Linked DNA regions of Homo sapiens: region 1 is linked to region 2. Evidence: fine-mapped expression QTL. Tissue or cell type: thyroid. Region 2 holds a variant in brackets; the other region holds the start of a gene. All regions are shown on one strand. Distances are from middle to middle.

Region 1 (2,500 bases), 52 kb after region 2:
ACACACACACACACACACACACACACACACACACACACACACACACACACACTCACTCTATTTTGTGCTGTCGTAAAACCCACGTGTCCAGCCGGGAAGCTGCCAGAGCGTGGAACCAAGGAGCCAGGACGCGGCAGCGGCCAAGCGCAGCAGCCCACGGCGGTTGAGTCGGGCGCCCAGGTCCGTCCGCACTCTCGCGCCCTCCGCGGGCCTCCCAATTTTCTCGCTTGCAGGTCGGGAGGTTTCCGGGCGGCACAATCTCTAGGACTCTCCTCCCGCGCTGCTCAGGGGCATGTAGCGCACGCAGGGCGCACACTCTCGCGCACCCGCACGCTCACCGAGACACCCGCACGCACCCACCGGCAGCACCGAGTTTTCAGGTAAGGTGAGGCTGGTCTGGGACTTAAGAGTCTAGGGCTTGGTAGATAGGAAGGTTGGTGGTCCTAGGTTGGGGGCGGGCGGCGAGACTGTTCTGCCTCCTGGCGCCTGAGGCCAACGCGGCTCGGGCGCTGCGCCACGCCGGCTCGGGTCGGCTCCGGGCGCTGGCTGAGGGCGGGGGCTGCGTCCTGCAGCCGAGTTCTACGGGGCAGCGCCCTCCTGTCGGGCCCCAGCATTGCTGGATGGGAGCTGGACGCTGCGATCGGGGAGGCAGAGCAGGGTGCACACAGCTCCCTCTGTGCGGCGCCGCAGCTTCGGAGTAAACTTTGCGCCCAAGCGGAGTTGGGAAGAGGGAGCCGCGGAACCGGGCGGCCGCCGGCTGAACCACCGGCTCGGGCACTTTCTCCAGGGTCCCAGTGGCCCTCTTCCCGGCCCCTTTCGCCCAGCTCACGCGCCCCCTCTTCCCTGCCCTCTGCCCCCAGTTCGAGGCGCCGGACATGCTGAAGCCCGGAGACCCCGGCGGTTCGGCCTTCCTCAAAGTGGACCCAGCCTACCTGCAGCACTGGCAGCAACTCTTCCCTCACGGAGGCGCAGGCCCGCTCAAGGGCAGCGGCGCCGCGGGTCTCCTGAGCGCGCCGCAGCCTCTTCAGCCGCCGCCGCCGCCCCCGCCCCCGGAGCGCGCTGAGCCTCCGCCGGACAGCCTGCGCCCGCGGCCCGCCTCTCTCTCCTCCGCCTCGTCCACGCCGGCTTCCTCTTCCACCTCCGCCTCCTCCGCCTCCTCCTGCGCTGCTGCGGCCGCTGCCGCCGCGCTGGCTGGTCTCTCGGCCCTGCCGGTGTCGCAGCTGCCGGTGTTCGCGCCTCTAGCCGCCGCTGCCGTCGCCGCCGAGCCGCTGCCCCCCAAGGAACTGTGCCTCGGCGCCACCTCCGGCCCCGGGCCCGTCAAGTGCGGTGGTGGTGGCGGCGGCGGCGGGGAGGGTCGCGGCGCCCCGCGCTTCCGCTGCAGCGCAGAGGAGCTGGACTATTACCTGTATGGCCAGCAGCGCATGGAGATCATCCCGCTCAACCAGCACACCAGCGACCCCAACAACCGTACGTAGCCGCAGCCCGCGCGCTCTCTCCCGGGGCGCCGGCGCCGGCGCCGGCGGGCGCGGGTGCCTGTCAGGGAGGCGGGTCGGATAGGAGTGACACGGGGCCGGGTGGGTGGGGAGCACCTGGTCCTGGCCGCTGGCCCGCGCCTCCCCGATCTCTGTGACAAAAGTTTTCTGGCGTTGGAGAAGGAAAGAGAACGGATGGGACGGCCGGTGGCACTTTGGGGTTCCCTCTCCCTCCCTCTCCTCACCTGCTTCACAGTCCCAAGTGTTTGGGGCCGGAGTCTACCGTGGACCCGGCCTAACAGACCTCTGCCCTCCCGCCGGACAGTGCCCGGGGCCAGGCGGGTACTGGCAGCGTGTGACAGGGGGTGTCTGGGTCAGGCCCTGCCTGGCCTTAGCCGGGACGAGGGAGGGACCCTCAGCGTCTCTGGGGAGCACGCAGACCAGGGCTTGTTTTTGCTACTCTCCACCCCACCTCTGGAGGGGTCATTTTCGGGCCGCGGGGTTGTGGGGGAACCGGCGGGAGCTGTTCGCTGGCCAGGCCTCACTGGAGTAGGAATTTTAGATGAAACTGAGTCCGTTTCTCCTTGAAGGCAGGCAGTATTCTTAGATCTACTATTCATTTAAAAAGAAGGAAAAGAAAAAAAAATGACTGCTACTTACTGAGAAGAAAATTTCTGTTCTCCTCCGATTCCGCTGATCCCGCTTTATCCGCGCACCTTTGACCCCGCAAACATTCATAACCCATGTTGGTTTATGTATTTATTTTTAGAAATTAGGGTGACTGTAATTTAGTAAAAGACGCTTACTCCCCTCTTCCTCCAAGTTAATAGCAAATGCCTAACTAAACATCAGAATTCCTGTAGCTTCGGTTTCTATATTCACAATTTGAAACGCTTATCACAAGTACAGTTCCATTTGGCGGTTTTGAAGCAAAACTCTAAATGAAGATCAAGCAATATGTACTGCTTTATACCTGCTTCTTTTTGATAATTTCAGAAGTTATACTGTGTTTACACCTATACTGTGTT
Region 2 (2,500 bases):
AAGATTAATGACTGGGGAAGTAAGTTCTTATTATATTTTTAAATGGAAAATTCGGGTTGCAAAACCACAAATTCTGATCTCAACCGTGAAAATAAATATATCAAGGCACTTAAATATTGAAAGAGATGTACCACAACGTTTACAGTAGCTATAGATAGAATTGATAGCTATTGATAGACTTATGGATTTTTGAGGGTTTAAAAAAATTTTTTTTACAGTTTTCTGATTTCCCAGATGTTCTACAATGAGCATATAAGTATTTTATAACATGGAAAGGGTTATTTTAAAACTCATTGCTTTTTGAATTAGAATTTCAAAAGAACTTTTTTGTTTTAGAGTAACAGCCCTAAAATTAACTAAAAATTAGTGGTATTCGCACATAGGTGCCATTTTAAGGGGCTGGTGCCATTACTTTCAAGCCAAGATTTTCCTCGGATTAAGAGATGGAATTTCTAAATGTCAGATGGGATTCCTAGGTGTACCTAAGTGTAGATCTAAAATGACATTGGAACCATTAGAGATAAAAGGAGTAACCACTACTTCTTTGGGGTGAGAAAAAGGAGAAATGCAATTCTGAGCTATTTTTATGATTCAGTCCAGTGAAAGACCTAATGGCTTTCCTCTTCATCCCCACCCCCAATAAGGAAAGAGTCCCCCTTGTGTAGCAAGACAAGGGTATCTCTCAGAGCACTTACCCTACGAGGTGACTGTGAGGTGATTGTATATATTTATCTGTGTTCATTAATTGTTTTTGTCTGTCTGCTATCAGAAGTAAGCAGGGCCAGGGCAGGGATCAGGCCTATATTTATTCCCCTTTGATGACCCAGATCTAGTGCAATGCCTGATATATAGTGATTTCTCAATAACTATTTGTTGAATGAATGAATGTGTCCAACTACTTTTTATGCTACCACCATCTCACCCTCTAGGCAAAGAAATGAAATCTTTCCCAGCTCCCTAGAAACTCCTCTTATACCCTCTGCCAGTTACAAACACTTTTTTCTGCCCAAATTAACTGCAATCCTGACTTTTCTTGTACTATAGTTTAATTTTGTTTTAATTTTATTTGAATAGGGTATTACCGTATGTATTTCTTTTTGCTTAAATTTTTGTGAAATTCATCTATATTTTTGCATATAACTATTTTGGTGGCTAATACAAAGTAGGAAGCAAATTCATTTTTTTCATAAGAATATTCATTTATTTCAGTACAGTTTATTGAAAATTCTCCCCTTTAACTCACCGCTCCATACTGTTCTTCTGTCA[C/T]AGAGCAAGTGCCCATGTATGCATAGGTGTGTTTGTGGGCACCCTATCTGTCCCATTGGCCTATTTGTCTGTCTTTGTGCCAATACTACATTGTCTTCATTAAAATAGCTTTATAATAACTCTTCATATTCAGTAATACATACCCTCTTAGCTTTGTTCAACAAATTCTTGGCTGTTCTTGAGCTTTTCCATGTCCATATAACTTGAGAATCAGCCTGTCAGTTTCCACACACTGAGATTTTGATGGGGATTGCACTGCATCTGTAGACCATTTAAGACTTGGCAAATTTACAATATTGAGTCTTCTAATTCATGAACATAGCATATTTAAGTCTTCTTTGGTTTCTCTCAATAAGATTTTATAGCTTTCTGCCCAGAGGTCTTACACGTATTTTATTAGTTTGATTTCTAAGTGTTTTTTTATGCTATTGTCATGTATTGTAGTAAAATTAATTTATATATTAACTTTGTATATACCAACCTTGTTAAACATATTCTAATAATTTATCTGTGAATTGTTTAGGATTTTCTCCATAGACAATTATGTCATCCATGAATAATGACAGTTTTATTTCTTCTTTTCTAATCTTTACATTTTGTATTTCTTTTTTGGCCTTTTTACACTGGCTGGGATCTGCAGTACAAAAGGAAGTGGCAACAGTGGGAGTCCTTGTATTGTAGACTGAATTATCCTCCAAAAAGATATATTGAAGTCCTAAACCTTGGTATCTGTGAATGTGACCTTATTTGGACTGCCTTTGCAGACGTAATCAAGTTAAGATGAAATCATACTGGAGTAGGGTTTGCCCTACTCTAATATGACTTGTGTCCTCATAAAAAGGGAACAGACACAGACACACGCACAGAGAACACCATATGAGGATGGAGGCAGAGATTGGAGTGCTGTATCTACAAGACAAGGGATGCCAAAGATTGCTGGCAACCCCCAGAAGCTAGGAAGAGGCAAGGAAGGATTTGCCCCTAGAGCCTTCAAAGACAGCATGGCCTTGCCAACACCTTGATCTCAGCTGCTAGTTTCCAGAACTGTGAGACAATGCATTTCTCTTGTTTGAAGTCACCCAGTTTGTGGCACTTTGTTACAGCAGCCCTAGGGGGCTCATACACCTTGTCTTGGTCCCAGTGTCAGAGGGAAAGCTTCAGTGTTTCACCATTAGGCATGATATTTGCTGAAGGTCCTTTTGGGGGATATCTTTTTTCAGATTCAGAAAATTCC

Alleles and levels. Positions count from the first base shown, and alleles are read on the strand shown. Sizes are in standard deviations (SD) of each study's normalised expression.
For the expression in thyroid of the gene that starts at base 1,177 in region 1, allele T in region 2 goes with a higher level than allele C (small effect, 0.23 SD a copy in GTEx).

The links. PIP is the estimated chance that this variant, and not a neighbour inherited with it, causes the effect.
Region 1: it holds the start of PRDM6-AS1, and the variant in region 2 is fine-mapped to the expression of PRDM6-AS1 in thyroid (GTEx, PIP 0.99).

Annotation. Positions count from the first base shown.
Region 1 is chr5:123,089,140-123,091,639 of GRCh38, forward strand. It overlaps PRDM6-AS1 (PRDM6 antisense RNA 1), which reads right to left and starts at 1,177. Exons shown (of 2, transcript NR_146771.1): 1 at 933-1,177. PRDM6 (PR/SET domain 6) reads left to right here and starts at 102. Exons shown (of 8, transcript NM_001136239.4): 1 at 102-380; 2 at 861-1,467. The coding sequence starts at 876.
Region 2 is chr5:123,037,498-123,039,997 of GRCh38, forward strand. The region is part of intron 1 of PPIC-AS1 (PPIC antisense RNA 1); the gene reads left to right. Among named protein-coding and RNA genes, the nearest start is that of PPIC, 2.0 kb to the left of the region's middle. The variant C/T (reference allele first, on the strand shown) is at 1,267.